Regions from separate parts of the Homo sapiens genome. Here region 1 is linked to region 2. A link means that fine-mapping ties the variant in region 2 to the expression of a gene that starts in the linked region. Tissue or cell type: whole blood. Region 2 holds a variant in brackets; the other region holds the start of a gene. All regions are shown on one strand. Distances are between the middles of the regions.

Region 1 (12,653 bases), 34 kb before region 2:
AGTACTTTCTCAGCGATTCCAGACTTATTTATTTGGTGACAGTGAGAAGGGAAGGGGGAGAGGCTGGCACTTCACGTTCCCTTGTTGCCCTCCCTCGTCTCCTGTAAGCAGAGAGGGTGGGGAGCTATCATTCGGCTCCCCAGCATCACAGGCGGCTGAACATGAATCAGCTTCCCCTCTCCTCCCTTCCCACTGCTGGAGCTAGAGAATGGGCTGGCTTCACATCAGCCCAGAAGAGGAAGGAGGATGTTCACCAACTTCACAAAACACGACTCCTCTTTTTACACCGGGAGAATGAGCACATTTTATTATTTGATCAGCACATTAAACGCCATCAGTACGGAGTGTCTGTTCCCTTACGCTAGTACCTGATTCCTGTTATAAATGAGGTTCAGGAATGCTCTCCTGGCTGATGTAATTTTGAGACAGAGTTTTCAGATGGAACTTCCAAAGAATCCCCCAAAAGCAACAGCGTCATGGGTAGATACAAAATTGGGATTGCTTAAGAACAATTTTTTGCCTGCTTTTGGTTCCTGACATTTTATTACACACACGGCCTCACGCCATTAAACGGACTCCAAAACCACGACTTAATACAAGTTGCATCTCATTCCATTGTATGGGGCCCTATGTTCCTTGACGGTCTGATAAAGTTGGCTAGAAGCCAGTTTGTTACTAGACCCCATAAGTGGCATCTGAGGAGGAACGTGTCAGGGCACGAGTGTGAACAATATGATCTCCTGAGACTGTGACCCACAGGATGACTGATGAGGAGGTGGCTGACACCACAGCATCCTCTGCCAGCTGAGAGGGAGAAATAAACATCTTCCTTGAAACCAGGGGTGATTTTGCCTCCTAGGTGACAAAGGCGGGCGCGGTGGCTCACGCCTGTAATCCCAGCACTTTGGGAGGCCAAGGTGGGCGGATCATGAGGTCAGGAGATCAAGACCGTTCTGGCTAACACAGTGAAACCCCGTCTCTACTAAAAAATACAAAAAAAAAAAAAAAAAAAAAAAGTAGCCGGGAGTGGCGGTGGACGCCTGTAGTCCCAGCTACAAGGTCCAGAGAAATTTTTGGTTGTTATGACTTGCGGATGCTCCTAGCATCCAACAGGTAGAGGCCAGGGATGCTGCAGAACATCTCAGACTGCACAGGACAGCTGCCTGCCACAAAGTGTCATCCATCCCAAATGTGAATAGAGCCCAAGTTGGAAACCCTGCTTCCAATCCTGCAGAGATGCTGTGTCTAGAGTGTCTATACCCAGTTGCTGGGCGAATGGGAAAGATTCAGAGAGGTGGTCTGGATGGAAGGCCCGTTGCCACGGTCATGCCAATACGGGTTCTAAAATAACGGTGGTAATGTGAAATAGCTAACACTATTGTGAGTGCTTACTCTGGGCTCGGCTTGATCATCTCACTGAATTTCTGCGACCTGGGAGGAAGGTACTATGACGACTCCACTTGACGGTAAATCAATCAAAGACACATACAGCTGGTAAGCAAAAGAGCAGAGAGTTTGTTTTTTTCTTGGTATACTTTTTTGGGGGGCGGTTGTGATGATTTTTTGTGAGGGCGTCTGGCTTTCCCACATGACTGTGAGCTCCCATGAGGACAACATCATATGTGTGATGGAGCTGCAGTATCCGGCAAAGTCCCTGCCACTCAATTCGGTGCTAATAAACAGGTGTTTAATGGAATCAAATAAAAGAAGGAATGAAGCAGGGTAATGTAGCTCAGGAGTTAGGACACTGGCGTCTCAGCTAGATCCAGCCATTCAACAGATAATCATGGTGCATTTACTTTGTGACATGCCCTGGAGAAACAAGCAGCGGTGTCCTGAAGCCGATCTGTAATGGCTCATGACAGCTGATTGTTAATTTTTCAGAAATTTTGCAAGCTGGTTGTCAAACAGCCAGTAAAAAAAATTAAGTTATGTAAAGTTACAAGTAAATAATATTTTTAAAAGGTAATACAACTCATCACTTCCTAATTATTTTACTACATTTTGCCGGTATCTCTCTTCTTGAAGTTATTTATGTCGATTGTAGCGGTCGCCAAACTTTTTCTGTAAAGGGGCCAGAGAGTGAATATTTTAGGCTTTGCAGTCCATGGCTGAATCTGGCCCCTTGCTGGTGTATTGTATCTGTGTGGTGGAAACTCTGCCGTGGGGTGCATGTCTTCCTAACTCCATGTCCAAGGACACATGTTGGTAGCTTGTATAATAATTGGCCATGGTGGTTGTATTTGCACCAGGGAAATTGTCAAACTTTATAGATCAGGCTTTCCTTTTTTCAGCAGGCTGACTATTGAACACGACCCTGGATACAGTGGTGAGCAAAACCAGAATGAACCCTGCCCGCTTGGAGGGTACAGTGCAGTGCATTGGGGTTTGTGCACCATTTCATGGTGGGGTGGGGCAAGGAGAGAGAGCTGTGCAGAGGCTGGAGTGGATCTCCACTGGAGACTGCTGGTTGTTAAACAGCCAGTTAAAAAAAAGATTAAGTTATGTAAAGTTACAATTAAATGAATAATATTTTTTAAAAGGTAATACAACTCATCGTTTCCTAATTATTTTAGTACATTTTGCCGGTATCTCTCTTCTTGAAGTTATTTATGTCTATTGTAAGGGTTGCCAAACTTTTTCTGAAAAGGGGCCAGAGAGTGAATATTTTAGGCTTTGGAGTCCATGGGCTGAATCTGGCCCCTTGACTATAGTTGCTGACCCCCCATGACAATAGTTGCTGAGCTCCCATGAGGGCAGCATTTTGTGTGCTATGGATCTGTAGTACCCAACACCGTCCCCGGCCCTCAAATAGGTGCTAATAAACAGATGTTTAATGGAATCAAATAAAAGAAAATGAATGAAGCAGTGTCACGTAGCTCAGGGGTGAGGACATTGACATCGCAGCGAGATCCAGCCATTCAACCGAAAATCACTATGCATTTACTTTGCCCGCTTCATTCATTCTTTCTTTTATTTAATTCCGTTAAACACCTGTTTATTAGCACCTATTTGAGGGCTGGGGACGGTGCTGGGTGCTACAGATCCATAGCACATAAAATGCTGCCCTCATGGGAGCAGGGGGAACATCCACTTACAGGTGTGGCTGCTGGAAGGCGCCTCAGCTCAACCTCTCCTAGGCTGCCCCTCAGCTCCACTGCTCTCCTCCCCAACAGGTACTTTGCCACCTCATCAAATTCCTTAATGGCAGCCTGGGTAGCGGGTGTGTCTTTCCCTTCTGAGTTAGCTACAGGGGACACCTCAGAGAACTCGAGTTGAGACTGTGCCCATGAAGGCACTTTACTGTTCAGTTTGGCATCCCAGCTCCTAGCATTGAGTTGATCGAGTGGGTCCTCCACCAGTGTGGCCCGGGGTGACCCCACAGTGGGCTGTTGAACGAAAGCGGTAGTTCAGGTGAGGGCACACGTCATCCTTTGGAACCTGGCTCAAACAAGGAGACACCGCCAGCAAAGAATGCAGAAAATGACAGGTTTGTCTGGTGAACTGGCCTCTGGTTAGTGAACGAGCCTGCGAGAGCCCAAGGGGAGTGAAGGGTGCGTGAACCGCCGTGCCCTTCCTGCTACTCCGTAAGCTTCTCAAGTTCAGTGTTGGAAGGGGAGGCTCTTAGGGGCTCGGACCATTCTTTGGAGGGTCTGGAGTTCCAGGGCATTGAGCACAACTCGGGGACATGGTCCATCCACGGGAGCTCGACGGGCTCATGTTTCCTATAATTTGGGGAGCTCCAGGGATGGGGCTCTGATGGAATCTGATGGCTGGATTCAGATTCCTTTCTAGGTTGGGAGCCTGGGATAGTGGAAGGTGGAGGGGCTCTGCAATGAGTTAGCCAAATCCCAGTCTAGGAGGCTGTGGACTCAACTGTCACACTGTCACAGACTGAGTACTAACGCCATCCCAGCTCATCCCCCGCAACTTACTGACCCAGTCCTGTGGCTGGACCTTTGCTAAGCACCAAGGAGTATGTTTTTGACAATCAATCCCTGTGTATTTGCTGCACCCCAGCTTTGTCCAGGCACTGAGCTAGTGCTGTTGCCAGACAGGCGCTTCTGGCTTCTGCCCTCAGGAACTTTCTTTGCCGTGTCTTGGGGGCTCCATTTCACTGATTTGAAACTATATTCAAGAAATACTGCTATTTAAAGAGGACACTGATTGAATTCAATACTTTCTTCCTGAATGCCTGCTCAGGACAACATTACAAAGACAGACATTTGTAATGTCCTCCTAAATTCCCAGAGGAGTGGGAAGCACATGGAATTTGAGGTCGAACAGAATCTGAGGTTCAAACCTCGGCTGGATCCTGATAGTTGTCTGACCCTGTCTGAGCCTCAACTTCCTCACTTAAGATGGGGATGGTAATAGTTCCTACCTCCTAGGCTGGTGGGGAGGAATAAACGAGAACAAATACATAAGGCCTCCAGCATGGTATCTGGTGCTTGGGTACCGGTCATTATTATCACGGTATGTCCTACTTAATGTTTACAAATCAACCACTGTACTGGGCTGCATGGAGGATGTCTGGAATGGTCCTGGAATATATCAGGGATTTGCATCCTGCTAAATCTCCTCCTTCTACTGGAGTTTTGTGCCCTGTATGGGTAGGGGCGTGTCCACAGATGTCCCCGAAGTGGACAGCAGCTGCTTTGCTTGCCACTGGGCCACTCCACCCAGTGACTTTGTGCTAGCCCTTGTTGCTTCCTTCTGTGGGGGGTAGGTGAGCATGAAAGTCTCCTCACTGGCCTCCTTGCCTCTAGGTTTCTCCTCTGCAATGCTCATCTGTGCCACACTGCAGCCTTTTGAAGAAGCCATGTACAAGTCACTCCTTTGCATGGCCCATGTGGTGTCTCCCCACTGCTCTAGTCCCTGGGTTTGCATTTCAGGGTGCTGCTTGCTCACCGCCTACATCTCTGCTCCACCTCCTCCAGGGACCTTGCACCCCATGGCAAGTGAGTTCAGTTTCCTGAACAAGCTGAGCATCCTCCCATCTCTTTGCCTTGGTAGGAGCCAGTTCGTCTTCTTGGAGCACCTATCCCCTTCTTTACTTGATTCCTAAAGAACTCTTAGAGTACCCTGGTCCCCCACACTGGGTTAGACATCCCCCTTTCTGTTCCTGGAGCACCAAGCACAATGTCTGTTACTGTTCTGGACTCTGACCTCCATGCTTTGTGGTTGAGGATGAGGACAGCACCTATGTCATAGGGTGTGAGAAGAGAATGATGTGTGCGTACAAAATTCTTAGCACATAGGAAGCCTCTGGCCACTGTGGTTATTATAGTCATTACCATTAATACCCTAGTGCCTGGCCTGTGACCAGCATACAGCAGGAGCTCAATGAAAATATTTGAACAAAGGATCTAATCCCACCCGCTTAATGGACTGGGGGGTTTCTTGGCCCCAACCACCCCCCAACACCCACATATCTAGGGCTTGCCCCTTCATGCTTGGTGGTTTTCTCAAGGCTGTTCAAGCTCAAAACTGGAAGGAAATGGCAGCAAATTGTGGGGAGCTAAGGAATTTCTAACTTTCTAATCTAATTGTGCCTCCCCAAGGAGGCATCTCCTGGGCAGGCTGGATGTGAGTCTTCTTTCCTTGGTGAGGGATGCAGCCTGGGACCTGCCTTTCATCCCCTGCCTGAAACCCTGGCCAGGCTCGGGGAGAGGGTCCTCTGGGGAGCACCTTCATGCTGCCTGTTCTTGGGAGAGGGGGGGTGAATAATTTCCACCAACGGCACAGATGCTGTGGATATTCCGCAGTGTTCACGACGCAGTTCAACACACGCTGCACACATTCATGTGTTCACTACAGAGGCGCCTTCACTTAAAAAGGCAAAAATCTAGGGTTTTAACGTTATTAGCTGCAGGAGCACGTGGAGATAAGAAAACCTGGCTGAGGAGCTGAGCATTTGCTAGGTGGCCTTAGGTGCCGGCTGCTTGTGATGGCAGAAAGGGAGCTTTTTGCATCCAGGCTGCAGTTCCTGATACCCTGGGTCACAAGAGAATCGAATATGGTTCTCTCGTGGGCTGGTGCTGGGCCTGTGAACTCAGATAAAATGACCAGGTGGGGTCCCAGGGAAGGTGAAGTAGGGGGAGCTGCTGGGGTGCGCACAAGAGGGGTGGCTGTGTAGGTTGGGGGGTGCTTTAAGTGGGTTCCTAGAAGAGGCTCTGTCTCCCTGGGCAGAAGAAAGAAGGGGGATGGGCGGACCGTCCCCTCTCTCCAGAAGGTTTGAGGACCCCCAAGGCCAAAGCCAGCAGACGTCAAAGGCCAGGAGTTCGAGGCCGGCTGGGTCCCGCAGTGGGAGACAGGGCAGGGTGGGCTCATCCTCCGGATCACCGCGGGGACACTTTCAGTCGGGAAGGCGTCCCCGTCCCACGGCCCCATCTGGCCAGCCCGCTGGACAGCCTGGACAGCGGAGGGGGCGTCAGGGGTCGAGGGTTCCAGTCCCCGTCCTTCCACCCAGCCCCCGGCCCTCGGGTATCCTTCTTTACCCGTCCGAGTCCGGCCCGGGGGCGGCGGGGGTGGGTGAGGCGCGGGCCCCCAGGCTCCGGCAGCCTGGCTGGGCTCCCGCCCGGGCACCCGCGGGGGCGCGGCTGGCGTGACGTCACGCGCCCCGCCCCCGCGCCCCGCCCCCTCCCCACATTCCAGGCGGGGCGGGCCGGGACCCCGCGGGGCTCGCCCGCCCCAGCCCCCTCCCCAGGGGCTGCCCCTCCCGTCGGGCCGCGCCTCCCCGTCGTGGGCCGCGACCCCGCCCGGACCGCGGACTCCGCCCGCGAGAGGCCGAAGCCGCCGCGGCCGCCGCCGTTGCCGCCATTGACGTCAGAGGGGCGGGCACATGACCCTGCGGGGACCAATCGCGCGGGCGCCCCGGGCTCCGGGAGCCCGGCGCGCGGCCCGCCCCGCCCGCGGCCACTCTCGCCCGGACGGCCGCGCGGACACACGCTCTGTACACACGCGCGCGGCGGCGCGGGGCCCCGAGACACGCCCGCCCCCACCCCGCCGCCCCCACCCCGGCGCCCGCCCTCCGCGCCTGGCCCCGGCCCGCCCTCGGCCTCCCCCGCCCCTCCCCGTCGCCCGCCGAGCCCGGTCAGCCGCCGCGAGCATGCACCCGACGAGCTAGGAGGAAGCCCGGAGCCCCGCAGGAAGCGCCGAGGCCGGCCCAGCCCGCCGCACGCGCCGCCCCCCGCGGGCAGCGCCCCCTCCCCTGCGGGCGCCCCCAGCCCCACACCCCCCCACCTTCCCGGGGGGTGGGGGGGTGCGGGCCGCCGGATCCGGGGGCCCCGCCGCCCCAGCAGCCCAGGACAGCCCCCTCTCCCCGCCCCCAGCCCCCTCCCCCGGCGCGGCCATGGATGTGACCAGCAGCTCGGGCGGCGGCGGCGACCCCCGGCAGATCGAGGAGACCAAGCCGCTGCTGGGGGGCGACGTGTCGGCCCCCGAAGGCACGAAGATGGGCGCCGTGCCCTGCCGCCGGGCTCTTCTGCTTTGCAACGGGATGAGGTACAAACTGCTGCAGGAGGGCGACATTCAGGTCTGTGTCATCCGGCACCCGCGGACCTTTCTCAGCAAGATCCTCACCTCGAAATTCCTGAGGCGCTGGGAGCCGCACCACCTAACGCTGGCCGACAACAGCCTGGCGTCCGCCACGGTGAGTGGCTCTGCGCGGCTGCACCCCCGCCTCTCCTCGGGGCCCGAGATGCGCCCTCCCTGGCTGCCCCCTGGCGCTGCACCTGGAGCCCAGGGCCTGGGGGGCGGTGGGGGGTGCCGGGGGAACGGGGAGAACCAGGGCGCCTCGCTCCTGGCCTGCTCGCGGGGCTCGATTTTGGAGTCTGAAGCCCAAACCAGCCGACCGGGCTCAGGAGAGACCCTTAAAATGCTGGAGACTCGGCCCACCGCCAGGCTGGGTGCCTGGGGACCTTCTGCCCCCAGCTCTTGTGTTTCTGGTGGCTGGGACTCGAGGATGGACCCGACGCTGGGCCCTGATGGTGGTGGGGGTTCTCTCTGGAAGCCCCTGGCCCATCTGGATCTGAGGGGTGGGGGAGGGGAAAACAAAATACCACCCCTCAGATTTAAAAAAAAAAACAAACAACACAACAAAACCTCCAAACCCCCAAACCCAAAGAATTTCCAGAAGCCAGTTTCTCTGTTTGGTTTACCCGTCCTTTATTCTCTTTCCTGCCAGGGCTGGCAGGCAGAACGGGGTGCTTCCCTTTCTGAAAATCTCATTCGCACATTGAGAGGTTGGAAGTGGAGGGGGAGGGGGCAGTGGTCCTGGAATATCTCAGGACCCAGCGGTGGTCGAGTTCTAGCCTAGAAGCTGCTTGGTGGAGCCCTGGTCCGGCATTGTCTGTAGAGTGTGTGTATACGTGTGTGTTTTGTTGCTGGAGGTTTAATTTTGTTATTGTTTTTAAATACATGGGTAGGACTGGGTCAGCTGGATGAGTCGGAGAGGAAAAACCATTGATCTGTTTCTGAAATCAGATCTGCAAATGGTGGCCTTCTTCGTACGTGGAGAAAGACAGCTGTGGTGGGGTCGAGGGGAGAGTGGGGGTGGCGGGTAGGAGCCTGAACAGGATGCTTTGTGTTTTGAAACAAGGACAGTTTCAAATACCGGCTGTGGCTTGGGCCTGAGGCTTGCCGTGGGGGTCCCATCCTCATTGGGGGTGTAGCTTGTCTTCCCCAGAATGCACACTCCTCCCTGGGGCCACCGTGATCCTGTTTACTAAGCGCAGTGGGAGGGGGCCGAATCCACTGCCTGCCCACACCTGTGCCAAGAAAACCCAGCCAGGAAATAGGGTGTCGCTTACATGGCATGTCACAAACGTGTAGCGTGTGTAGACATTTCCCTGGCATCCATGTTCCCTTGGCGGTGTGTCACAGGCCATGACACATGCCCCAAGGAATGGGGAGGGGGGAAAAGTTAGCTGAAGAATCCTACTCTTTGAACCAGTCCCCCACCCCCCACCCCAGAGCGTTGCAGCCCTCGAGGACTTTTATTCTTAATTTGGGGTCCGACATGCTTAGAGCACCTATTTTCTCTTTCCTGTGGGCACGTTGGTGCAATATCTGCAAAGACTCCTTTTTCAGGGAGGATTGCTGGTCGCGGGGAGGCGGCCCAGTCCCCGGTCAGGCTGGTGCATGTTCTCAAGCCCGTCCCGCGCCACAGGCCGCAGCATTTGGCTTTCCAATGGATGGAGGCGGGAGAGAGCCTCCGAAAATTTGCCAGTACGGAGTGTTTCTGATGTGGGGAGGAACTGGTGACCGCGGTGCCCCCTGCCTGGATTCTGGAGACCCCAGATCTGGCTTCAGAATTTTCACCTGGCTCAGGGGGACTTTATTGGGCTTTTTTTTTTTTTTTCCTCTTACACTCCACAAAATGAAGGGTTGTTGGTGGTGGGGTAGGAAAATGGTTAGAAGGAACAGTGACCTGCCATGGGAAGGCCAGGAGGAGCCCCTTCTCCCTCTGGGAGAAGCCAGGAGTGAGTGTCCCGCTGCTACCGTCCTGTTTCCGGAAAGCCAGCTCTCGAGGCTAATGCCTCCCCACTTACCTCCGATTGCTCAGGAGGTATATCTGAGAGAAAGAGGGAAGGAAGAAAGACCTGAATAGCCAGAGGCCCCTCGCTCACCTTGGCCAGCCCAGGTAGGTGGCACCATCGGTAGTGTGGGCCTTTCCGGAAAGCACCTGTCTAGTACTGGGGACTGAGGCTTATCCATGGAGCAAGATTCTCTTGGCAGAGCCATGCTCTGGTGTTAGGAAATGTGGCAAGAGGAACTATAAGGAAGTGTTTGATGGACTGGCATAATCCCCTTTCCGCTGCCTTTCGTCACCAAGCACTACAGGCAGGGGGTGTCCTTAAGTCTTACCCTTGCCCTCTGGTGGGCTCCAGGGGGCCTTGCCTCAGGGCCTGTGAGCCTGGAGGTGGGGCTGTGAGGGCTGGCCTGGCTGGAGCGCTGGCCTCCCGGGTAGAGGTGAGGTTGGGACTGCCACCAGGGCTCTCGTCCCATCATGAGACACCTGGTTGGTGTCCAGGCTCTCGGGGAAGCAGCGGAGCCCCTGTGGGGTTTCCCTGAGGCCTGGACATTATGTAATCTGTCTGCGTTTTATAGTGCGGCCCAAGCACTCTATTGAGAAATATGAGCCCAAATAAAACAAAGGTGAATTTGAGTGCAGTTCCCTAGAACAAAAACCCTTTGCAGTCCTGTGGCTTCGCAGCAGCCGCTGGCCCAGCCCTGAGCTCCCGATATTCCAAGTATGTTTCCTATAGAGTCATATCCTTACTTGAAATATCAGTCATCCATATTTTAAGCCATCTACACAGCCCAACTCAGAATCATCTGGTAATTATCTGGTTAATTGTATGGGCTTCAGGAACAAGACCCAGAGTGATTGATAGGGATTCAAACCAATAAACAAGCCAAATACTCTTTTTTGCCCAAACCTTTTGCAGTCTGTTTCCATTGATCCAATTAACCGAATCTGAGAGATTTAAGACCGTGCTTCCAGGAGCACATCTGCATCAGGCTGGGATGCAGGCAGACTCGGGCTCCCAGTCCCACCTGCTGGGTGACACCGGCTAGGTACACCTTTTAGTCTGGGGTCCAAGGGACCTGATAGCCCTCCAGGCTGTCTTACCGGTGGAGCCAGCAGCCTCACCCGCCTGGCCTGCCTGTAAACTTTGCCTCCTGTGGGATCAGGTCGCAGCTTGCCCTGCCCTGGTCTCCTGGGCCAGTTACTGATTAAATCCTTGCAGAGCCAACAGCGTGCCTAATGTGGCTTGTGACGGCCGCCAGGTCTGATGCACCCTGTGCTTGGAGACTTTGGATCCGAAATGCTCGTAAACAAAGGAGGAAGCAGATAGGCGACAGCTGACTTGGGAGGGGAGATAGGGAGGCCAGGGCCCCCTCCCTTGGGGACCCAGGACTGCACCTTTGTGGGGAAGGGCCTGTCTGCCCAGGCTGTGGCCTGAATGTGGTGCCCCATTCCCTCTTTGTACCCAAACTTCCCAGTTCCTGGGCCTCACTGGCTCTTCATGGCTGGTGATGGTCGTGTTGGTTGTAAATGACAGCCAGGGCAGCCAGGGGTTCTGCATAAGCGGCCGGGTTCGGCAGGACCAGAATCCATTTTGCTGCTCTCGTCTGTGGGTTGAATTTGATCACCTGCTAGGCATGTTTGTCCGTGGGCAGAGGGCTTTGTCTGTAGGCTTTGTTTCTTCTGCACCACAGAAGTACAAATAAGCTGCCTACCTTTTATTTCATCTTACTTTTAAGAGAATGTGGCACACGGTATTTCAGAATGGTGGATCCACTCAGAAAGTCCTTTATTCAGGGGTCGGGGCACAGGTGACAGTAGTGTTCTTTATTCTCAAGCCATAATTCATCAGTGGCTTGTTTTTAAATTTTCACCACTCTGCTGTTTGATTGCAATGTTTCTGGGCATCTTGATATGGATGGGAAAGGAGAAGCCACCTTCATTCTCATTGGTTTCTTTAGTCTGGTGTTTTCTGAACTTGGACTTTGTTTAGCACAGGCTTACTGCATGCCTACTGTGTGTCACTTGCTGAGCTAAGAGTTACACATCCACATGGCTTGGTTTCTACCTAAGAATTAAAATCTATGTCCTCCAGGGTAGTCACAGATCCCACGAGAACTCATCTGTGCCCACATGCACGCATGTTAATTGCTTTTTCACTTTTGTTACATACCCCCCTTCCCCCCATGTGCCTAGCCTGCCTTTAATTTATTTGATGTTTTTTTGTGGCAGTAAACACACAGATTTCCCCCCCCCCCTTTCCATGCCATTTGTCATAGGAGGATTTTGGAGTGTATCAAAATTGTTTCCTAGACAACTTGTCTGATTGGAGGTGGTGGAGGGGAGGGGCTGAGACAGAGAGGAGAAAAAGTCAAAATTCTCTGTAAATTGCAAACGTGGTCTGCCTTTCCCAGGCTGTAATAAGTAAGTGCATTTTAAGGAAGGAGTAAGTTTTGATGCTCGCATTTGCCTGGTGCAATCTGAGATGCCTGTTCCGGCCACGGCAACATCATGCCAGTCCAGGTGGAAGGAATTTCACTGCATGTGGCTGAGCTTTCCTGCAAGTGGGTGACAGAGGTGGCAGTTGCTGCTGGCTTGGGCTGCTTGGCCCACAGATTGACTGATGTGGCGGCCCTGCCTGCTCCTTAGTGTCTCATCGGGCAGTGAGAGGGCATTTCTGGGGCACTGTCCTGGGCAGGGCTCAGGGGGACCTGGTAGAAGGCAAAGCTGTCCCAGGGTACCTCAACTGCTGCCAGCCAGGACTGACTCGTCTTGAAGGTACCCAATTGGTGTTTTGTTGGCATGGACATTGCAGGGGGTCAGCTTACACCTTTGATTAAAGGAATACATGAGATTAGGTGAGGCAGCCTGATATGGGGCATCTCCTCTGTGGGGGAGAACAGATTTGGGTTTTGCGTTCTCATGGCGCTGGATCTGGATTTGAAGGGTGCAGTTTCCTGGCTGTGTGACTTTTGGTGCTTTGCTTTCCCTTGCTGGGCCTTGTTTTTCCTCCATCCTTAGGGAGAGCACCTCATGTCTAGGGTTGCTGTAAGGATTGGAGAGGATAGATAAGCACCTACTAGTATAGTCAGCATACAGTGACCAGGATTCCAATTCC
Region 2 (12,653 bases):
CAGTGTCCTTCATGGTGGCTCATCTGGCCGCCCGTTCTGGTATCCTGTGTGTGGCGTGCCCCATGCGTGGAGGAGTGGCCCATCTCCCCAGGGGTCCCCTGGGTCTTGTAGGCACTGATCACAGCCACTCACTTGACACCGTTGAGTGTCAGCTACATGCCATGCCCTGTCCTAGGGTGCCCCAACATGGGCCCTGCTCTCAGGAACCTGAGCATTCACTGGGGGTGGCACCCGCAAATGTGTCAGCCAATCACCAGAGCCCCTTCAGAGGTGGCAGGTGCTAGGACAGTAGAGGGGCAGGGTGAAGGGGTGGAGAGATGGGAGGCCCCTCAGGAGGTGGCCTGGAGGCAGGAGCTGATCCTGTGCAGATGTGGAGAGGCCGTTGGGATGGTGAGTGCAGAGGCCCTGGGGTGGCTGAGGTGCACAGTGGGGTGTGGAGGCTGGAGGGACATCCAGGGGCACATCGTGGCATCTGTGGTGATCTGCAGCCTGCGCCCAGTACTTTGTCCTGTTCCTTTCGGGGCTTGGCCACACCGCAGCTGCCCAGTGAGTGTGTGAGGGGCTGGTCTGTTTAACTGCTTGCCCTGAAGGTGCGAGGAGAGCCTGTTCGCCTTGCATCCAGTGGGCCAAGCTTACATAGATCCCATCTCCTCTGCATACCCTCAGCATCCTGATCTATAAAATGGGAGTGAATATAGCACCTTCAGCCACACCACCAGCCTGCCTGCGGCCCCTGCCTCCTGCCCGGCCTCCTCTGAGGTCAGTGCCTTCAGCTCCTGCTGCACTGGTGGCCACCGCCTGCAAGTGCTTATGTCGGCCTCTGTCTCTGCAGGACGACGTGAACAGGCTGCGGCTGTCACTGACGTGTCTTCCTTCGTGTTTGCCGTGGGGGGCATATAATTGCATTCCTCATGAGGGAATGACACAGAAAGGGCAGGGGGTGTCAGCAGGGGCCGCTCTGTAATTTCCATGTCTGGGACGGATTTCAGGACTGAGCTGTTTTCCTCTTTGACCCGGCAGAGGCTGTTGCCCAAGTCAACAGTGGTGCGTTTTTGAATTTGTCTTTGTTGGTTTTCTTTTTCCCTTTCTTCTTCTTTTTAAAATAGGTCTTTTTTTTTTTTTTTCCATCCTATGAAATAAAACTGGAGACTTGGTTGTAGTGGGTAAGAATTAGCAGTTCCTGTCCTTTTGGTGTGGGAGTTGGGCGGGGGTTGACTTAAATATTTATTTCCCATTAAGGGATTCATGGGCTTGGACGCTTGTGTTGGAATGGGGTGATCTCAAATCTCACTCATGATTTTCGACCCCTGTAGGACTTGGGCCTGCCTTTGGGGGACGCGGGGACGCAGGGACGCATTGAGCAGAAGCTGCAAGCGGATGACCCATGGGCCAAGTCAAGTCTGCTGACGTGTTTTACTTGGCCCACACAGTGGTTTTTTTTTTTTTTTTTTTTCTTAAAGCTTCAGTAAGTTGTCTGCCTTTAAAGTTGGGAGCATTCCCCTAAAAAGTTCCGGATATCCATTTTCTAATAATAACAACAGAAGCAAACATTTCTATGTGACTTACCACAGGCCTGGCTCAGCTCTAGACGACTCCCATCCCTTTGCTCCTGGGATCCCCAGACAGTTCCGAGGTGGTGCTTCCTGTGATCATCCCCATTCTACAGCTAAAGAAGCAGAGGCAGGCCTTTAACCGGGCACTCCTGGCTGTGCCCATGTTCCTGTGTGGCCACCCCTTCAGGCTGGGCACGGCCTCTCCACTCCCCCAGCCTCCTAGCCCACTGTACTCAGGTTCCCCCCTGCTCAGAGCTTGTGGGCGTGGACTTTGTACCCCCCGGGCTTGGAGAGGGCAAGGTGACTGTGGGAGTCCAGCTGCTGCTCCTTAAGTTGAGTTGTCTGTCACTGACTTACCCTCCCTCCCTCTCTCCCTACTGTCTCCATTCTTCTCTTTCCCCCTTCTTTCTCCTGCACCCTCTTTTTCCATTCCTCCCTTCCCCCTTCCTTTCTCCGCTCTCTCTTTCCTTCACTCCCTTCCTCCCATTCATCTGGTGCTTACCGGGGGCCACCAGGTAGGCACGTCGCACACTACTTCTGCTTCATGTGAGGGGTTCATGGTGGCTTCTCCCTACCTTCAGACCACACCTCTGGTGGGAGGTGCTGCGTGAGGATCCCAGGGGTGAACTGAGTCAGGTCAGAGGAGCAGGGAGCCCCAGCCCCTGGTGTCTTCTTACTGTGTGGTCTCTTCCGTGTCACCGCACTTCTGTGGAAGGGGAATGATGGGGGAAGTGGAGGAACCACTGTCCGCCTGCGGAGGGGCCTCAGTGTTGGCCGTGCTCATGGCGCCCTCCTCCTGGGGCTCCCTCTCCTCTGGTCCTGCCTCTCCTGCACGCCCTTCCTGCCTCCTTGGTGCCAGGGGAGCCAGCCCAGGACAGTCTCTGTGCCTAGGCCCTGCCAGCCTGGCTGCCCTGCCTCCAGCCATGGGGGGCGGGCGGGGAGGGAGTCGACCAGTGCTTGTCTTTGCAGAACTGCTGGTGGACTGAATGTGGTTCTGGGGGTGGCCAGGCCTGAGGGTAACTCATTTTGGAAGGTTTGGGATGTCACTTCACTTAAGGAGCCTTCAGCAACATGGAGTTTAAGTGGCCCTCTTCACCGTGGCCTTGTGGCTTCATGAATGGAGCTGCTGTGGTCAGCATGGCTGGCCCTCTGGAGAGGAGGGTGGGCCATGAGGAGAAGATGCTGTGTCTGGAGGCCTTAACCCTTTCCTCCCTTCTCTCCCTCCCTCCCTCCTGTCTCTTTCTCTCTCTGTCTCTTTCTCTCTAGGTGCATAAAAAAAATTGCTTTCAGATAAAGTTGACATGCAATAAACTGCATATTCTCCCTTTGCTTTTAAAATGATGATCTGTTTCAGCCATGCAAAGCAGGGTATAAAATAATATTTCAGTGTAACCACTCAGCGGAAGAAATAAACCATTCCAGTTGCAATACCTGATGTACCGTTCTCTGATTTCAAACCCTTCCTTTTCTCTGCCCCGACTTTGATGTTTATTCTTGTGCATATTTTTGTACTTGTACAACTACATACTCTTATAGAACACTCCATAATGTTTCCTAGATTTTTTTTTTGTTATTATATAGCTTTTATTTCACAATCATAAACTTAACTCAACTCTGCAATCCAGCTAGGCATGGAAGGGAACAAAACATGGAACCCAAAGGAAACTGCAGTGAGAGCACAAAGATTCTAGGATACTGTGAGCAAATGGGGCAGAGGGGTGCTCTCCTGAGCTACAGAAGGAACGGTCTGATGGTTAAGATAAAACACAAGTTGCTGGGTGTGGTGGCTCACTGCCGTAATCCCAGCACTTTGGGAGGTTGAGGCAGGTGGATCATGAGGTCAGGAGATCAGGACCATCCTGGCTAACACGGTGAAATCCTGTCTCTACTAAAAATACAAACAAAATTAGCTGGGTGTGGTGGGGGGCGCCTGTAGTCTCAGCTACTTGGGAGGCTGAGGCAGGAGAATGGCATGAACCCGGGAGGCAGAGCTTGCAGTGAGCTGAGATTGCTCCACTGCGCTCCAGCGTGGGTGACAGAGTGAGACTCCTTCTCAAAAAAAAAAAAAAAAGATAAAACATAAGTCAAACTTTATTCAAGTTGTCCACAGTTAGCAATAGTGATCTTCTTGCTGGTCTTGCCATTCCTGGACCCAAAGTGCTCCATGGCCTCCACAGTCTTCACGTCTTCTTTCACCTTGCCGGAGACCACGTGCTTGCGTTCAACCACTCAGTCTTGGCAGTGCGTGTGGAAAACTGGGAACCGTTTGTGTTGGGTCCAGCATTTGCCATGGACAAGATGCCGGGACCTGTATGCTTTAGGATGAAGTTCTCATCTTCAAATTTCTCCCCATAGATGGACTTGCCACCAGTGCCATTACGGCGTGTGAAGTCACCACCCTGATACATAAACCCTGGAATGTTCCTGTGAAAGCAGGAACCCTTATAACCAACTCCTTTCTCTCCAGTGCTCAGAGCGTGAAAGTTTTCTGCTGTCTTTGGAAACTTGTTTGCAAACAGCTCGAAGGAGATGCGGCCCAAGGGCTCGCCGTTGACAGCGATGTCAGAGAACACAGTGGGGTTGACCATGGCTGATAGAACAGGTTTCCCGACGGCGCCGGTGTCTGCAGAGTGGCCATGTTTCCTAGATTGTAAAGTTTCATATAAATAGTATCATTACTTGGGCCTTCTTGTGCAACTTGCCTTTTTAGTTTGCTTACTTTCTGTATATGAGATCCATTGTATGAAGAAGCCGTGGCATATTTATTTATGCATTCTGTTGATGGTCTTCTAGATTGCTTCTAGATTTTTGCTGCTGTAAACAATGCCACAGTGAACATCTTCATAGATAATCTCCATTTACAGGAATCCAAGAGTTTCTCCCATTTCCTGTTTCTTCTCCCTCCCACCCCTTCTTTCCTTTTGTCCTTACTTCCCGACGTCAGCCAAGTTCAGCTTCTCAGGCTCCCTAAGGATCTTTAGGAGACGGTGAAGATGAATGAAAAGACCCCAGCCCCAGCGTGGAGGTCAGGGCTCCTGGGTTTCAGCCTCAACTTGGTGGACCTCTTTGGGCTTCATCTATAGTAGGACCATTTTTATCTCGTGGGGCTAATTCATGCCGCGTTGAGCTGAGCACCTGGGCATATGGTTGATGCTTGAAAAATGGCAGCTGGTTGTGTCTATCTTCTGATTTTGAAGATACACATCGGGCTTGGAAATGTCGGCCCTGAACTCTTTTTTTTTGAAATGGAATCTTGCTGTGTTGCCCAGGCTGGAGTGCAGTGGTGTGGTCTCGGCTCACTGCAACCTCAGCCTCCTGGGTTCAAGTAATTTCCTGTCCCAGCTTCCTGAGTAGCGGGGATTACAAGCTTACACCACCACACCCACGCCTGGCTAATTTTTATATTTTTAGTAGAGACAGGGTTTCACCATGTTGGCCAGGCTCGTCTCGAACTCCTGGCCTCAGTTGATCTGCCTGCCTTGGCCTCCCAAAGTGCTGGGATTACAGGCGTGAGCCACCGCACCTAGCCTGAATTCTTAAGGGGTAGATACAGGGCAGGGTATGGACTGTGCATCCAGGTCCCCTCCTTTCCCACTGAAGGCAATGGCTGCCCTCCCTGTGTGAAGGCGGCTGGACTGTCGTCATCAGCACTCAGAACTCCTTGCTCCTGCATGTAAGACTCCGGGATCATATAATATTTAAAAATGCAGCAGCTTAAACACAGCAGAAGCTTGTTTGTTTTCTCTCGTATAAAGGAAATCTAGGGTCTAAGTCGTGTGAGGGTTGCCGTGGCTGGCCTGTGGCTTTGAGGGCCTAGGGCCCCTCCATGTGGCTGCTCCTCCGTTCTTAGCACCATGGGCCAAGAGAGGCTCAAGTTCCTGCCATTTTGCCTGCCTTCCAGTTAGTGGGAAATGGGATCTTACCATTTCGTTTGCATTCCAGTTAGCAGAAAGTGGGAGTGGCAGGGGAGTGGAAAAGGACTTCTGCCCTGTTAAGGTGACTTCTGCTTTCACCTTACTGGCCAGACCATCATGTGGCATCCCCGGCTGCAAGAGCATCTGGGAAATGTAAGTGGGAGCCATGAATCCCACCCCACAGCAGGATTTTTATTATTGAGAAGGGAGAGGAGGCCAGAATAGGGTGTTGGCATGGGCCACGCTAGCCATCTCTGCCACTGCCCTTCCCCCCCACCCCAGAAAGTATCCCAGGGCCAGTCTCCACTTCACTCTTGGGAAGGCGAAGGCTGGTCAGGGAGACACATTGCGTGGGCATTCCCTCAAGCTTCCGGAACAGGCCATCCTTTGAAAGCCACTCACATGTAGCACAGTGGAAGGAAGCAAGGCTTTTACAGGGGCAGAGGGAGTGGTAAGGTATCAGCAAGCCGTAGAGTAGAACAGGGAGCCGACAGTTCTGCATGGCGCCAGCAGCTCCTGGGAAGGGGTTGTAGGGCCGAGATTTTGGCGTCCTGTATGGAGAGGAGCAGCCTGCCGGAGAAGATAGTGAGCTCCCTGAGAAAGCAGGTGTGCAAGCAAAGGTCAGATGGACATGTGTCAGTCAGGGAGGCCACCGAGTGCGTTCTAGATCCAGAAAGCACATTCATGGAATTCCATTGAGGAATTATGGAAGGGATCTCATGCAGGGATGGTGAATGCACAGACCATGTGTGGTCCCCTCCACCCTCCAGCCCTTGTTGGTCCTCCTGGTGCCCTGCAGAGCCGCAGCCACCCCAGAGCCTCCCGGTGGGAAGAAGTTGGCACCTGAGATAAACCCATTTGCTTTTCCCACTTGAATTCAGTTCTCTTGTTCCTATAGGTGTGGACGTTGAGGGCCAGCCTGGAAGCGCCATATCCAGAGGCACTCAGGGAGGGGAGCAGGAGACCCAGGGCTCTGGGATTCAGGTCCCTCTGTCACACCCTGCCCTTCTTCTGGGTCTTTCTTCCCCACCTCCCAGCCAGAAATTGCCTCCTGGAGCCAGCCCAGCCTCGTCTTGTTCATTGGAGCTCAGTTGGAGACCCGTCCTCACCCGAAGCAGGGTGAGAGGACAGCACCTGCCACCTTTAAGTCTGGGCTTTGCTGGACGCCTAGGAGAAGCCGGGTCCTCAGGCACTCGAGTGGGAAGTGAAAGTGTGCACCAGCTCTTTAGTTCTGCTATTGACCGGACAGGGTTTTTCCTGGGGGGAGGGGGAAGGAGCTGCTGTGTTTTCTTTGCTTAATCTGGCCTTG[C/T]CCCACAGAGAAAACACATGCGTAGCCTCCATCCTGTTTGTAAAGAGGGCGGTCAGCTACTCGAAGTTGCTCGCCTGGAAAAACTGGGAAGATGTCATCTCCTATGGTAAGGAGGTGGGGGCTACAGGTAGCTGAGGTGGGCAATGAATGTCTTGAGGGACTGTCAGCATGTGACCTTTTTTTAAATGGTGATAAAATACACGTAACATAAAATGGGCCATTTTAACCAGTTTTAAGTGTGCAGTTCATTGAGTACGTTCACATTGTTGCACAACCATCACCCCCATCCATCTCCAGAACTTTCTCATCTTCTCAAACTGAAACTGTCCCCATTAAATGTTAACTCCTAGTCCCCCTCCCCCAGCCCCTGGCAGCCACCATTCTCTCTTCATTTTCTATGACTTTGACTCCTTTAGGGACCACATATGAATGGGTTAATATAGGATTTGTCTTTTTCGTGTCTGGGTTATGATTATTATTATTTTGCTTTTTTTGTTGAGGTGAGATTTACATAACATAAAATCAACCATTTTAAAGTGAAGAATTCAGTGATATTTAGCCACTACCACCTCTGTCTAGTTCCAAAACATCGTCACCCCAGAAGGAAATCCTGTACCCGTTAACAGTCACTCCTCTTTCCCCCTACCCCCGGCTCTTGAAAACCAACATATGACTTTAAATTTGATTTGCATTTGCATATATTAGGCCCTCTACAAATGTATGCTGAATGAATGAAAGAAAATCCTGGCCAGCTGAGAAATAATGATGAAAGCTTGGATTTCTTGAGTGCCTACTTTGTGCCAGGTCCACATAAGCATGTGTGGTTCTCAGCCCTGGCCGCACAATGGGATCACCTGGGGATCTTCGTAACCCCCAAAACCCAGGCCCCACCCCAGAGACGCTGATGGCTTTGGTCTGGGGGAGGTCTGGGCCATAGCCTTTTCCGAGCGATTCTAACATGAGAGTGAGTGGTAGGCAGTATTTCCTTGGGTCATAGCAGTCCTTTGGGGTAGGTAATATTATCTCCATTTTGTGGATAGGGAAACAGGTTATAGAGGTCAGGTAACTTACCCAAGCTCTCTCAGCTTCAAATCTCCATCTGAGGCCAGGCGTGGTGGCTCACGCCTGTAATCCCAGCACTTTGGGAGGCCGAGGTGGGCAGATCACCTGAGGTCAGGAGTTTGAGACCAGCCTGGCTAGCGTGGTGAAACCCCATCTCTACTAAAAATATAAAAATTAGCCAGGCGTGGTGACACACACCTGTAATCCTAGCTACTCAGGAGGCTGAGGCATGAGAATCGCTTGAACCCGAGAGGCAGAGGCTGCAGTGAGCCAAGATCGTGCCACTGCACTTCAGCCTGGGCGACAGAGTGAGACTGTATCAAAAAATAATAATAAAATCTCCACCTGAGTCCAAAGCCCTGACCCATTCTGCTGCTCCAGCCTCCCTCTGTTGTTTTGCAGGTGATTTTGGAAGGGGCACCTGTTGCTACTTATGTGTTTGCTATGGGGTAAAATAATTAAAAACTATCTAATTGGGATTTATGGGGTGCCAGCTGTATGCCAGGCACTGATTCACGTTCTCTCATTTTACCTTTACAGCCACCTTGTGCAAGGGGACTGTTATGATGACATCAGTTTCCCCAACATTGTTGGGAAAGGACGGGGGTGGTTTGCCTCACTTATCATGGAGGGAGTCTCCCCTTGGCCCTCCTGGTGGGGACCTCAGCTGAAGCAGAGTGGGAAAGAAGCCTGTGTGTGATGTCAGGGTGGGGTCCAAAGTTGAGGCTGAATGCAGTGTTTTCACGGGATGGCTTTGACATCGGTGAGAGCTGCTCTGCCCAGTTTGAACTAGTGGTGGGCCATTGAATGGAGCTGGAGAAGCTGTGCACACCTCAGGGCTTTGGCCCGGCTGTCTCCCTCAGCTGCACATGGTTTGTCCCTCCTATTTGCGTTTGAGATTTTTGATGGCTGTGGGACTCATGATTTATTCAACAAATATTGTTGAGACCTGATAGCTGGGCGCCGTCTGGGGCTCTTAGGAATATGCGGTGATGAGACAGGCACAGTCTCCATTATCCTCATGGTCTGGCAGGTGGTACGGATTGTTGTGTCACCCTCATCTGGGTGTGCCGGGCCCTGTCTCTGCATGAGCTCCCTCATTCCAGCCTCATGGCAGGTGTACAGGTGAGGGCCTTGAGCGACTGTGTGTAACAGATGAGGACAGGGCCGCTCAGGAAGGCTGAGAAGCTTTCCCAACGTTACACAGCTTGTGAGAAGCGGAGACTGAAATTGAATGTGAGCTGATGGCTTCAGAGCTTGACTAAGTAACACTGACAGATAATTATGAAAGAGGAAGTCCAGGGAGCATCTGCGTGGGATGGGGCCATGCCAGGGCCAGAGCGGCTCCCAGAGGGTGCTGTTTCAACTGAGGTCTTGGGGGGATGGGTACACTAGTTTCCTGTGGCTGCTATGACAAATGACCACAGGCTTTGTGGCTTAAAGCAACACAAAGTTATTATCTTACAGTTCTGGAGGTCAGAAGTCCACAGTGAGTCTCGTAGGGGCTAAAGTTGAGGTGTTGTCTTTCTGGAAGCCTAAGGGAAGGGTCTGTTGCCTTTTCCATTATCTAGAGGCTGCTCGCATTCCTTCCCTCGTGGCAGCATCACTCCAACCTCTGCTTCAGTCTTCACATCTCCTCTGGCTCTGGCCCTCCCGCCTCCCTCTTTTTTTTTTTTTTTTGAGAGGGGGTCTCACTCTGTCACCCAGGCTGGAGTGCAGTGGCGCAATCTTGGCTCACTGCAACCTCTGCCTCCCGGGTTCAGGTGATTCTTGTGCCTCAGCCTCCTGAGTAGCTGGGATTATAGGTGTGCGCCACCACACCTAGCTAATTTTTGTATTTTTAGCAGAGACAGCGTTTCACCATGTTGGCCAGGGTGGTTTCGAACTACTGACCGCAAGTGATCCACCCTCCTTGGCCTCCCAAAGTGCTGGGATTATAGGCATGAGCTACCGGGCCTGTCCCTGCCGCCTCTTATAAGGACCCTGTGGTTACACTGGGCTCACCAGATCATTCAGGGGCACCTTCCGTCTCAAGATCCTCAGCTTAAGCAACTCTAAGGGTCCCTTTGCCATGTCAGGCCACATAGTCACAGGTTGAAGGGAGTAGGATGATTAGGGCCATTATTGTGCCTATCATAGCAGGGGAGAGTGAGGCTGGTGGGCAGGCAATCTAAGGCCTGGAGGTGAGTGGGTGCTTGGCTTTGGAGGGGTGCTGGGCGCCTAAGTACCTGGAGGAGGAGCTCCTGGAGGGGAGGGTGAGACAGCAGAGGGCCTTTTAAGTCATGGGGCAGACTGGGAGTTGGTCACCTGCTAAGTAGCTTCTGGAGAGAGGACCTCTGTTCCCACTTGAGCCTGGTGGACATGCGTGTCCCAGGAGGACGGTGTGTGTTGGGGAAGCCCCTGCCCCTCCCCCACCTAGGAGCTTCCCTTTCACAGTGACAGGAAGAGGGAGAGCTAGGAGCATAATGTGCTTTGGGCAGGAAATGCAGGCTGCATCTTCCCATTGCTGGAGAAGGTGACAAACCCGGGCTTCGGAGTCACTGGGGCTGGGTTTGAATCCAAACTCCACCACATCCTAAGCTGAGCCCGTTCCCAACTGTAAAATGGGGGTGAGATAGGGCCTGACTCACAGGGTCAGCCCTGGGGTCAGCGAGGCAGGTCATGGGACGCTGTTGGTGCACAGGCATGCCTGCTTGCTCGTCCGTTCAGCAGATGGCGGTGGCGCGTCCACTGTGCACCAGGCACCATTGCAGGCACGGAGCAAAGCAGGCATCATCCTGGCCTACTTGGAGCCCCCATTCTACTGGAGGAGAGGAAAATGAACACGGAAATATAGAATCTTGTCTGCTGCCACTAAGTGCTGTGGAGGAAACCATCAGACGAGGGAGGACAGAAGTATTGGTATGAATGGGGAGGGTGTGGCGTCTGTGTGTGGTGGCCTTTGGAATAGGGTGACCAAAGAAAATCTGGATGAGAGGTGACACTTGAGCAGGTTTGGAAAAGGTAAGGGAGGAAGCTGTGCATGTGCAAAGGCCATGGGGCAGCGGCTAAAGGAGGTAAAGGAGCCATCCACAGCATGTGCAAAGGCCCTGGGGCAGCAATTTACCTGGTTTTTTTTCTAGGAATGCAAGGAGGTAAATGTGGATGGAGCAGAATGTGCCTTGAGGAGGGTGGCAGGAGGTGAGCTCTGTGAGTCACTAGTGGGGTCAGATGGTGTAGGGCCTTGTAAGAACTTTGGCCGTTAACTCTGAGGGAGAGGAGAGAGCTGTGTCTGCTCTAATACATTCAGGAAAGTGGCAGCTCTGAAGACCGAAGTGCCTCCTGGCTTGCCTCTCTCCCTCCCGCAGCCTCTTCCTCTTCCTCTTCCTCTTCCTCTTCCTCTTCCTCTCCCTCTCCCTGACCCTCCCCCAGCTGCCCACTGTTTTGTGGGGATTGATTGGGCCCATTGAGGCCTGCTGCCTGGAGTAGCAGCCTTGCCCACAGTCCAGTCTGGGGACCTTTCTCGGCCATCCCCTCCTCCAGCTATCCTCAGTGTTGGTCACTTATGGCTTTTGCTATTTATATAGCACAGTGGTTTATAAACTCTGCTTCTAGAATTTCGCAACCCGTCCTGCAGCATGTTATCTGTCCAGGCAGATAGTGGCGATCTTTATCCAAATCAAAGGACTGAAATTAAGGGGATGGAATTGTCTGCATTTTATGTTTTCCACCCAACATATTTTGTCATAAACTGGGAACTTGTGTAAGGTGGCATCCAGTTTAGTTCAATCCTGTATGTAATCATTTCAAGCTTAATAAATTAGTTAATATTTGTTAAACACCTACTGTGTCTTGGGGTTTCTGCGAGATGTGAGATTCATTGGCGGACAAACCAGATAGCGTTTTTGCCAAGTCACCGAGATAGTTTCAGGTCCTTGGCCATCATCTTTTTCCACCAACTCCAGGTCAGCTCAGGGGCCCACCAGGTGGAAGTCGCCCTTCCCTGGCGGACCTCGCCCGTTCCCATTCCTTCTGGCAAAGTCAGATTTGGTGAAAAGGCCACAGCAGCTGGGTGGAGTTCCACTTGCCAGCTCGAGGAAGAGTTCTGGGAGGCACGGGAAGCCAAAACCGCCTGTGAAGGAGGCCTGGTGCAGCTCAGAAAGCCCTGGCTCTGGCCGAGGTTTGGGATGTGTGGCTGCCATGGCAACCCGTCTCCCCGACGAAGGGTAGACGGGTTGGGCGCCGAACGCAGGGTGTTGCAGGTTGGGCTCCATTTTGACTCTGGTGGAGAACGATCACCTGGCTGCAAAACCAACCTCCCCGCCCAGTACAAGCATCTCCTCTTCCCCCTTGGGCCACGAGGGTGGGGGACTTGAGGCAGGAGTGGGTTTTTGTAGTGGGGTCATTGGGTAATCATCTCCGGCTCTCTGCTGCAGTTGGTGCGCACAGACCCGGCTAGTTTAAGGCCATTGATGGGACTCCTGTAGACGCTAAGCGATGGAAACATTGTGCGCATCCAGTACTCGGCGTGCTCTGGATGGGGCTGGAAGATGCCAGGTGGGCTTCTGAAACGAGTGTGGGGTTCACTCTACCTTTGATCTTTGCCTGCCCGGGTGTCCTCATTCATTTAACTCTTGGCTTCCTTATTCCTCTGTCCTTATCCCCTTCCTAGGAGTGGGGTCTGCTCAGATATACCCTCTTCCCTGCCTCTTTCCCTCCCTCCCCTCCTGCCTTCCTCCTCCTACCCCTGAAAACCTCTTTTTTTTTCTGTCCAAGGCTTTCTTGGGCGAGTTTAGAGCAGCAGTTTCCAACTTGAGCTGCGCATTGGAATTACTT

The links.
Region 1: CMIP starts here. The variant in region 2 is fine-mapped to the expression of CMIP in whole blood (INTERVAL, PIP above 0.99).

Annotation. Positions count from the first base shown.
Region 1 is chr16:81,437,888-81,450,540 of GRCh38, forward strand. CMIP (c-Maf inducing protein) reads left to right here and starts at 6,921. Exons shown (of 21, transcript NM_198390.3): 1 at 6,921-7,654. The coding sequence starts at 7,355. RefSeq lists enhancers at 5,762-6,294, 8,459-9,224, 9,225-9,988, 10,755-11,518 and silencers at 6,504-6,603, 6,714-7,063, 7,134-7,183, 7,614-7,913.
Region 2 is chr16:81,472,379-81,485,031 of GRCh38, forward strand. All of the region lies in intron 1 of CMIP (c-Maf inducing protein), which reads left to right. It also overlaps the pseudogene PPIAP51. Among named protein-coding and RNA genes, the nearest start is that of CMIP, 34 kb to the left of the region's middle. RefSeq lists enhancers at 8,677-8,766, 8,797-8,866. The variant C/T (reference allele first, on the strand shown) is at 6,777.